3 linked regions of the Homo sapiens genome follow. The protein of the gene in region 1 interacts with the protein of each later gene in a pairwise test. Each region holds a gene or a part of one and is shown in the gene's direction. Other genes may lie near its edges.

Region 1 (3,758 bases):
GGAGATAAATTATAGGCAGTAACAGAGTGCTTCGCACGTTTGGGGGTGTTGATACCCTAGGTTTTCAAGTTACAATCAAAAGCTGGGTAAAGGAATGAGAGATCCCCTTGGTGGTTCAATGTCACAGGCAAGGTGAAACAGGAACAACAGAATTCACTTTATTGACTCTTGATGTGTAGATTTTCATTACAGGCAGGTAATGAAAGCTCAATGCCATGTCTCTCACATAATATTATAAGAAAAATAGAAGAACAGCTAAGGACATTTTTCCCCCCACTGGTGACCACTTTATTAGGAAGAGAAAAATAGCAAAACAACTAGATATAGAGAAAATAAATCGAATGCCATAATAATGCTGAAAATAGTGGCTAAGTACAATTGACAAATTAGATCACATGCCGTAGATAATGAAAAGGAGCATTATGTTTGCTGTGAACTTTGCAGAGTTCACAGGAGAGAGATGTTTCTGAAAAGGTACACATAACTATTTTTAAACTAAACTGAATTATATTTTAAACACACTAGGTGAGGCATCAATTTAAGTAAATATTGGTCAACTACAGGTGCCAGAGATAATCATTCATGCTTTGTAAATGCTAATCTGTAAACTTCATGGTAAAGATGTCCATCTAGAAACCATAATAGACAGTTATCGTGATTTTCTTAAATTACAGCAAAAGCATATTTAGTGTATTTAATGGGTCCTTTGAAGATAGAAAGACTTATATTATCAGTGTTTTGTAAAAATGGGATTATAAACTGCTCTGGTTAAAATAATTAAATTTGGAGAGGCTGTATTAAAAAAAAAAACTATGGTAGGAAGAAGTTCTAAAAAGCAGCTGTGTACCAAATTCTATATTCCTTTGCAACTTATGTTACAAACATGAATACTGACTAGCTTTAAATCAGACATGTCAAGGTTTGAATCCAAATCCGATCTCTCAGTTACTAGCTGTGTGTCCTTGGACACATTACTTACATTATTTATGTCCCACTTAATCATCTGTAAAGTGGGATTAATAAGCCCTTCTTCACCATTTGTTTATTTTTGGTTAGCATTAAATGGAAAATATGTAAAGCAGCTGATATATCAAATGCATAATAGTAATATACTTTCCAATTATGTTAAACATTTTTAGAACAATCTGAATTTCTTAGTTGTCACAGAAAAGTGAATGAAATATCAATAAGCAGAATGATCACAAATACAAACACCTATGTAATCACAATCAGGTTGAGAAATAGAGTATCACCAGCACACAACCTCCTTCCATGCTCCACCCAATCAATTCTGTTTACTTCCAGTAATAAAGCCCTTTCCCAATCGTATCATTGTAGCTTTTTGCCTGTTTTTGAACTTTATATACATGAAATCACACAATACAACTGGTGTTTCAAGCAGTGCATTATGTTTGTGATAATCATCCATGTCGTTGCATACAGCTCTAGCCTGTCAATTTTCACTATCTGAATATACCACAGTTTATTATCCAATCTGTTACTAATGAACACTTAGGTTTGAGGCTCTTATAAATAATGCCGCTATGAATGTTCTCATATGTCTGCCAGCTTTTATTTTTAAGTAGATTTTTCTTAAGTGATAACCATAGGGCATGGAAGATACAATATGTCTAAAATTCTAGAAGTATATGATTATGCAATTGCTTGCTAAAAGCTTTTGAAGAGAAGTATCAGATTTTGAAGATAACTAACATATATTATAGATATATTTACGTTGTACCACATGTGAGAAATTATTATGTAAGAGAGGACTTGCTATTTAAAATCAACACATAACTAGTGGGAGTGTTTAGAAGCTCTGTAGACCCTAATGAAAAATCAACAAGGCTGAAAATATTTGTAAAAATTTCAGAGAGCTGTTGAGAAATGGCACACAATACAAGAACTAAGTAACAGCACTTGTACCTCCTCCCTTTTCCTCTCTCAGTCAGCATGGAGGCTTTCAGTGAAAAATAAGGTTCAATTCAAAAACATGAAATCAGTACTCAGATTTTATTGCTTGAGGAAAAAAAAGTCTATTTTTTTAAAGTAAATTTTCCATTAAAAGCACTGCAAATTTTAGCCTCTAATGAGATTGGAGTCAGTTGACTTGGCTTTAAATATTGCCTCTTCCATTTTCCAGCTTCTGTTACTAGCCATTGTGAGCTTCAGTTTCTTCATCTGCAAAATGGGCATAATACAATCTATTCTTGCCACATCAAGGGATTGTTGTAAGTATCAAATAAGATGATACTGTAAACTTTGTAACCAAAAAGACACTATAGATATATTATTATATTTGAATATTAAATGGAGGTTAGCATCTATTAAGTGTTTACTTTAGGCTAGATCTTGTTTAGAGTGCTGCTACCTAAGTCAGCCCATTCAGTCTTCAGAACAACACTCTGAAGTTAATTATAATGATGATAAAGCAACTGCTTATTATGGTGATTATTTTTCATGAGTTATTTGTGTCAGAAGCCAGAATTTTAATATAAATCTGATTTCAAAACATTTTCCTATATCACCCTATTTATGAATTGTGGCACTTCCACACTTAAGAGGCGGAATGATGTGCCTGGATTGGAGATCAGGACCCAATCTGCAATTATCTAGCTTATTTTCCCACACACACCCCAACCATATTCTTCTTTTATAAAATAAGAGAGTAAGATTAAAGAATATCCTTAAATCTAGAAGGCTTCTGAATCTCCCCAGTTTGGGATTAAGTAGCAAGAAGGACATCATGAAATGAAAAGTATTGTGGAAAAGGGATACATTCAAATTCATGAGTTATTTCATGACTAGTATTAATTCAAACTAGATACTAATAAAATGTATTCAAGGGTATTCCTGACTGACTCACTTTAAAAAAATCTAATATATGGTGCATTTAATGTATAGTCAGTAATGTCATTTTCATAATAAATATTTCAAATGACATCTTTATAAAGAATGCGTTTTCTTAAATAGATTGAAGAAATCAGCCAGCTCTACATGGTCTATATTTACAATATTTTTAAAATGTTATTTAACAGTTCATATACATGTTTTAAATATACGTGTATGTGTGAGTGGGTGGGTTTTTATGGTTTTCTTCCACCTTTTCCCAAGCTAAATGGTCTTTGAAATAGCAGTGTGTGGCTTGAGGAAGTTTTTGCATGGCATTTCCCTAGAAGCAAGGAAGGAAGAAAGATTACGTGGAAAGCAGTACTCAATGGCACTAATTTAAGTACATAATCCAAAATAAGCAATTTTGGAATAAAAATATGATATTACCATCTCTATATTATGTCTAGATTTTTATCACTTTAAAATATATAGATCCATTTAAAAACTCAGAGTATTTTATTTAAGGAATTCAAATTATGGTTATTTTCTTTCAGATTCCTTTAAAAAAAAACCAATACCAAAGAAGCCTACAATGTTGGCCTTAGCCAAAATTCTGTTGATTTCAACGTTGTTTTATTCACTTCTATCGGGGAGCCATGGAAAAGAAAATCAAGACATAAACACAACACAGAACATTGCAGAAGTTTTTAAAACAATGGAAAATAAACCTATTTCTTTGGAAAGTGAAGCAAACTTAAACTCAGATAAAGAAAATATAACCACCTCAAATCTCAAGGCGAGTCATTCCCCTCCTTTGAATCTACCCAACAACAGCCACGGAATAACAGATTTCTCCAGTAACTCATCAGCAGAGCATTCTTTGGGCAGTCTAAAACCCACATCTACCATTTCCACAAGCCCTCCCT
Region 2 (3,758 bases), on another chromosome or scaffold:
TAAGGTGTTGATAATAACCTGAAAGTATTAAACCAAGAAGAAGGATGCTGAAAGAAACAATAAAACTCAGAAAATAGAGTAGCAAACGAGATTTTTGAGAAACGAAAGGAGAGAAAGGCAAGGTGAACACTGTTTTGTCAGCCAGAAGTGAGTCATTACTGAGCACAGAATTAATGCTAGTGATATACCTGTGTTAAGATGGGAGGAAGCCACATATTCTAGAGGAAAATGATGCATGATAAACAGCTTGAGTCATCACCTCTAATGTTTAATTAAAAGTATCCAGAAGGCTGTAGATCTACACAGAATCTTTTTACTGCTTTATTATTATATAGGCAGTGCTACCTTTTCTCAAATACCAGTATATTCAATAATAAAAATTGATTCATTGAGTACGTTTAACCACATTTTATGACCTTTAAAAGATGTCTTCATAGTATGAATAGGATATGTTCCAAAAGTTAGTCTATAAATAAATTGCTGGAACATATCCTCAGCAGCTTAAATGACAGGTTTTATGGTATGTTCTGGGAAACTATTTATCTAACTAGGTGTGATTAAAGTGCTAATAAGACATAAACCACAATAAACATTAACAGCTCTTTCAAAACTTAATAATTACAAGGCACCAAACAAAGTGATTTGCATACACAATCATACTTAATCCCCCAAACACTATAAAATATGTATTGTCTCTCTTTTATAATAGAGGGTACTAAAGAAAAAATATTCAATACATTGCTCAGCTCACACAGCAAGGAACAAAGTTAAGATTTGAATTCAGATTCAACTGACTCAAAGCTCTTACTCTTTACCGTTATCCTAGTCTACCTAGGATAGGTAGTTGAAATAGTTGCATGCTTTATATACCAAGAAGTATACTTAGGTTTTCTGTAGAATTCACACCATACATTTTAGCAGAACTAAGGGTATGTGATGACTGTAAGGTAGGGTCATCCACAAAAGAAGTATGGATAAATTACCATAGGAGCAAAAAAAAGTATTCATAAGCAATGGCTTACAAAGCTGGAGCATGGTTATTTGTATGTTTAGGATTGTTTAGCTTTGAATTTGCTTTTTACTTATTGATATGGTTCCCTAAAATTTATTTGCAGTATATTTAATTTTTGTTTTACAATCAATAACAGTTCACAGAAGAAAAGCTTGGCCAGGCTGAGAAGACAGAATTGGATGCTCACTTAGAGAACCTCCTTAGCAAAGCTGAATGTACCAAAATATGGACAGAAAAAATAATGAAACAAACTGAAGTGTTATTGCAGCCAAATCCAAGTAAGAAACTCTACCTCTTGTGTACCTTAAGTACTATTAGTGGGTTTTTAAATGTTAAAAAAAAAAGTTTTAATGGCCATCTGAAAACATAGGATTTTTTTATTGTAGCTTCAAGGTCAGTGGGTTTTTTTGTGTGTGCTTTTGTGAAGAGGAAGTGATAAACAGCTATGTACCTAACCAATTTTAAAATGATATTTTTCAGTCTTTTATAGAATCCTTGTAAAAAATCTCAATTTTAGGCAGTGACTTTGAATTTTAATTTATGAGCAGCTGTGTATATAAATATGTTTTCCTTTTTCATCTAGGGAAGAATTGTCCCTAGATAATTAAGACAAAGTTATATAGTTGCTTAAGTAGGTACCATTTTTTATGTTTAAGTTTTTGGTGTGTTTTTTTGTTTGTTTGTTTGTTTGTTTGTTTGTTTTTTGAGACAGAGTCTCGCCCTGTCGCCCATGCTGGAGTGCAATGGTGTGATCTTGGCTCACTGCAACCTCCACCTCCCAGGTTGAAGCAATTCTTCTGCCTCAGCCTCCCAAGTAGCTGGGATTACAGGCATGTGCCACCACGCCCAGCTAATTTTTTTTTGTGTGTGTGTCTTTAGTAGAGATAGGGTTTCACCATGTTGTCCAGCCTAGTCTCGAACTCCTGACCTCGTGATCCACCTGCCTCGGCCTCCCAAAGTACTGGGATGACAGCCATAAGCCACTGCGCCCCGCCTATGTTTAAGTTTTACATTTTCACATAAATTATTTCATTTCATCTTCAGACAACTATGAGATTTTCAGATAAGTCAACTCAATAATCTTGCAGTTAAGGTGCATAATTGTTTAGTGAATGAAACTCATGAGTTAGCATCTTGTCAAATGTAGCATAGCTAATTAGAAGTGGAAATTGGACTAGAACCGGGTGTATGAACATCCAGTCTTTTCACTGTGAGCTTTGCATATCAAAACTGAAGAACAAAGGTACAATGTATGCTTTCCTTCTTTTTTCCCCAACTTGTTTGGGACCAAGTTGTGATATGACATATGCTTACTTTTAGATACTAACTTAAACTTCAAGCACTATATAAATATTAGCAGTTCTCTATCATTTTAGTTAAATAGTAGTGACTTTTTAAATACACCTTTTGGTTGAAAAACTTAACTGTTGAGTTCTGTGCTCAGTACCTGGGTAACAGGTTCATGTGTACCCCAAACTTCAGCATCATTCAGTATACCCAGGTAGCAAATCTGCATGTGTACTCCTTGAACTAAAATAAAAGTTGGAAATAAAATAAGCTTTTTGCACTTTGAGTGAGTCCTAATGTCTTTGGACACCATGTAATATTTTTTATTCATTTAAGGCCATTTAAATTCTACACTCTGGCACTTTTATTAAAAGTAATAGACATTTTTCCCCTTGTTCTAAACATATTTTTCTGAATGGGAAATAAGCTCATTCACAACTGGTAAACAGGGAAATAAAATACAATTTCCTCCTGCCCCTGTTTTGTGCCAGGAAGTCGTAATAATTGTTTTTGTTTTTTGTTTGTGCTGTGGTTTTTTTGTTTTGTTTTGTTTTGTTTTGTTTGAGACAGAGTCTTGCTGTGTCACCCAGGCTGGAGTGCAGTGGTGTGATCTTGGTTCACTGCAACCTCCACCTCCTGGGTTCAAGCGATTTTCCTGCCTCTGCCTGCTGAGAGTAGCTGGGATTACAGGTGTCCACCACCATACCCGGCTAATTTTTGTATTTTTAGTAGAGACAGGGTTTCTCCATGTTGGCCAGGCTGGTCTCGAACTCCCGACCTCAGGTAATCTGCCCGCCTCAGCCTCCCAAAGCGCTGGGATTACACGTGTGAGCCACCATGCCCAGCCTGTGCTCTGGTTATTAAGTTACATAGGTTTTGAGCAGCCAAACCTAACACTCCTTTTCTTGTAATTCCTATGTTGTTTTCAATGTATGATCTTCTGGAAATGGGTTTTTCAAAAATACGTTATGCAGAAATACATATTACATTGTAGCAGAGTTGCCTGCATATTTAAGATTTTATTATAACCTATTGAAATTAAACATTTATTAGTATTCCAAATATTTTATTAACTGAACGAAGTCAGCATAAGATTCCATTTTAAACTTTTGGCCAGATAGGTGGAAAAGCAGTCAAAATTAAGAATCAGAGTCAAAACACAAAGCTGTTTTTTTTTTTTTTTGAGACAGAGTCTCACTCTTTCACCTGGGCTGGAGTGCAGTGGCACAATCTCTGCTTACTGCAAGATCTGCCTCCTGGGTTCAAGTGATTGTCCTGCCTCAGCTTCCCGAGTAGTTGGGATTACAGGCATGCGCTACCACACCTAGCTAATTTTTGTATTTTTTTTTTTAGTAGAGACGGGGTTTCACCATGTCAGCCAGGCTGGTCTCAAACTCCTGACATCAAGTGGTCTACCTGCCTTGGCCTCCCAAAGTGCTGGGATTACAGGCATGTACCA
Region 3 (3,758 bases), on another chromosome or scaffold:
AAATACATGCAAATAACAAGATTTTCTTACCTCTCAGTTGTTGAAACACTTTGCTTCTTAAAATTGATATGTTGAAACTTTAATTCTTTTATCAATCCCAGCATTTTGAGATCAGTCTTTATTAATAAAACCTGTTCTCTTTAATCAGCTTAAAATCCAAAGTGTCATATTTACTGGTCCTGGAGACAAACTTGTTCAAAAGAACATCAACGTGCAATGTTTTAAGGTCTATCTTAAGAAGCCCTGGCCAAATTTTGATCCTAACCTTGAAGTATGCCTTGAACTTATTAACATGGCCATTATAAGAATAAAATATGTAGTTGTGTCTTAATGGAATTAATAAATGTCATTTCACTACTGGTGTTCTGTTTCAATGTATAAGGACTATAGTGATTTAAACTCATCAATGTGCCTTTGCATAAAGTTCATTAAATAAATATTGATGTGGTATAAATGCCCATCAGATATGCTTAAACTTGGTTTTCAGTTGAATGAAGTAGAGAATGTCCTCAGGACCATCAGCATTTTAAAGGTTATGTGACTTTTGCTGATTTCTCTGAGTTCAAGTTAAGCATGAAGTTAGTACCTCAAGCCTGTGATTTTTCCCTAGGGATGATACAGACCCAAGAGGCTACAACAGAACTTAAACTGGCTTCGTAATTAGAGTTTTTAAGATAATTGTTTGTTTTTCAGCAATATAGACTGAAAAGATCCAAGCATATTTAGCCACTTGCTTTTTTGTTTCTTGTTTTGTTCTTCTTTGGATGCCTGATTAGTATTGAAAGATAGAAATATTCTATGAACTAATTAGGACAGATTGTGTTGTGTTTCTCTACCTCATCTTGTTGATCTCTGGAGCATTAAAATCTATTTAGTGTTGTCATCAGTGTGGTACTTATGAAATGTAAGCTAACAGCAATCTCAGAAGGGAGGCAGTGAAGCATAGCAACTAGGCTCTTGTTTCTTCAAGATGGCCCCTGTGGGGCAGTGCATAGATGGGGGTGTAAAGAGAAGCTGTTGGCATTAAAATGAGCTAGATAATCAGCCCTTGTTGAAGCATATTCCATGGTATAAGAGTAGCACAGACATGAAACATAGATAAAGAAGGAAGGCTTAATAGACTAGAAGACTTCCACATTGAAGTATTATTAACCCATTGTATGTATATAGGGGCATGATCAGAGTCTCTATAACTTCCTGATTAACAATACAGTGTATCTTGTTACCCAGCTGTCAGTCTTTGAGAGCTTTCAGTAAAATATAGTAAATTCTTTCAGCATAGGCTAATGTGTGGTTACTGAGATGAGTGTTGTGTACTCAGAACCGTAGCAACATTTTTATGAATGGTAAAAGTACAAGAGGAGGAAAAGTTAAAATTAGAAGAAAAGTACAAGTTATTGCTTAATCATAAATCACACCAGATAACACATTTTGTTAATTTCATTAGCTATTACTGGAAAGGACCTTAACGATTATTTACAGAAAGGGGAGTGAAATTCATTGAGGTTCCATATCAAGTGGGCAACAAAACTATTACTAGCATTTTGATAAAAATTGCCCCTAATGAAATCTAGTCACTCAACAGTAAAACAACAGCTGGTTTACACTTGAAATTATGAGATCAGAATTGGGCACTTTGGGCTTCCGTACTATGTTTTGCTTAAGTTTTTTTTTTAATACTAATATGGGCTTTTTCAGTAGTAATATACCAAAACACTTCTATTTTAATCTCTGTTTGCTACTTCAAAACCTAATCCTCCTCAGATGGGATCATGAGCATAAGAGGAAAAGAGAAGAGAATGAATACTTGTTGACCTCTTGATGTGTATCAGATGCTTTAGAAATGTAATTGTATTTAATCCTCAAATACCTTATAGGTATTATTATCCCCTTCTTACAGATGAGGAAAGTGAGGCCCAGTTTAAATAACTTGCCCAAGGTCCTTTGGCTAGTACTGGAAGGAGTCAAGATTTAAACACAGTTCTGTCTGAATCCAGAACTCAAAATCTACATTGCACATGTTGCTTTCCTGGTGGTTCGGTGGAATGGACTGCAACGCATTAGATACTGCTGTTATTCTTCCAGGCCACCGCTCAGCTAAAAATAATTGTGTGTGTGTGTATATATATATATATGTACACACACACACATATATATACACACACACATATATATACACATATACATATATATACACATATATATACACACACATATATATGTATATATATACTACATTCTTGATCCTAAGTCTTTTTTAACTTAAATTTTATTACTTATACAGAATTCTTATTTATACTTTAATTATAGGTGTGACGAAGAGAAAGAGAGTAGGGAAATACACAGGCAGTGGTTTTAAGTGTAGATGATGGCTCCTTAACCCAGTGTCATTAGATAATCAAACCTAAAGTCTTCCCATATTAGGCAAGCGCAATTCTCTATTTTGGACCCTTCCCATTCTTCCCTTACCTTCTGCTTTTCGTACTGAGGAATTTCGTGTGATTTTAGATAAAGTGATAATGAGATATTGAGCAAATAAGAAAATAGAGGTAATGCTATAAAAAACTAAGCTATGTACACTTTCAAAATGCATGTTTCTTGCATGCTTTTTACTACTTAATTGCATTCTTTGCTAATTTCCTTTCCTTGCTGTCTGTTCTTTTCTAACAGCTGAAGAATGTTCTGCTGACTCTGACCTCAACTTTCTTATTCCTGTTGCAGTGGGTGTGGCCTTGGGCTTCCTTATAATTGTTGTCTTTATCTCTTATATGATTGGAAGAAGGAAAAGTCGTACTGGTTATCAGTCTGTGTAATCAGTTAAATCTAGTGTTTGTTTGTTTTTTTCAATTAGAAGTTACGTTTCCATTGGCTAAAAGCCAGGACATGCTGTGCAATAGATTGTTTAAGATATGCAGACTAACTTCAGTGAGTTCCTAGCTAACTTGGGCATGAGTACACTTATTTAAGACAAAATATATTAGGACCAATTTTTTTCTGTTTTTTTTCTTCCTTTGTTAAAGTATAATTAAAAGAAAAATTGTGGCTTAGAATTTTTTAAGTAAATAATGATTTTAAGCCCCTGGATCCAATTATGAAAGCATTTTTGCTGATGTGTAATTTTATATGTTACAGTTACTTATATTTTACTACTTTGATGTTATTTGCAAAATCAAAGGTGTTAAAGAATTTAACTTGCTTCAGGAAATAAATTCAAGAACATAGTGGATTCATTTTCATTGGTGGCAGACACGAAATTTGGTTCATGATAAGACTTCCTTTCCCCACCTCCTGATCAGCATTATTTAAATCTGTATTTTTCTGTTAGTTAAGAAAGAAATGGCTTCATGATATTGTATTTAATAGCAAAAGTTTGGCTGTCTTCTTCATTACTGTTAATAGCTACTATATTTTAACAAGGAGATTTCTTTTTTTGTTGTTGTTGTTCTAGAGTTTGGAATATACTGATTATCTCAGACTTGACATTTATACTGAAGGATGAAGTAAGACCTCCAGCTTTTTTTAAAAAAGGTGTTGATTTGGAACACCTGTATGGGTTATGGTTTATTAAGGTTATGGTTTAGAAAGTTTTTTTCCCTCAGAGCCTTAACTTGTTAAGAAGGTTCATTTATCCTGCACTGAAAACAAAAACTCTATATACTTTGTTTGTGTGCCTCCTGCACTCTCCCATTCCCTATGTGAATATGCTCTAGTTGATATTTTTAATATATTGATTTCTTTTTTCTCACAGCAACAAGTGC

Evidence for each region.
Region 2: the proteins of MUC15 (region 1) and SH3GLB1 interact in binary tests that used the Homo sapiens proteins (3 or more experiments, as listed by UniProt).
Region 3: the proteins of MUC15 (region 1) and LAMP2 interact in binary tests that used the Homo sapiens proteins (3 or more experiments, as listed by UniProt).

Annotation. Positions count from the first base shown.
Region 1 is NC_000011.10:26,565,525-26,569,282, reverse strand, and holds part of MUC15 (mucin-15), read left to right. Parts: intron 1-2,143; 5' UTR 2,144-2,188; coding exon 2,189-2,231; intron 2,232-3,386; coding exon 3,387-3,758. UniProt on the Homo sapiens protein: May play a role in the cell adhesion to the extracellular matrix.
Region 2 is NC_000001.11:86,714,576-86,718,333, forward strand, and holds part of SH3GLB1 (endophilin-B1), read left to right. Parts: intron 1-1,148; coding exon 1,149-1,290; intron 1,291-3,758. UniProt on the Homo sapiens protein: May be required for normal outer mitochondrial membrane dynamics. Required for coatomer-mediated retrograde transport in certain cells. May recruit other proteins to membranes with high curvature. May promote membrane fusion.
Region 3 is NC_000023.11:120,427,539-120,431,296, reverse strand, and holds part of LAMP2 (lysosome-associated membrane glycoprotein 2 isoform A precursor), read left to right. Parts: 3' UTR 1-2,670; coding exon of another isoform or gene 2,671-2,813; 3' UTR 2,814-3,758. UniProt on the Homo sapiens protein: Lysosomal membrane glycoprotein which plays an important role in lysosome biogenesis, lysosomal pH regulation and autophagy.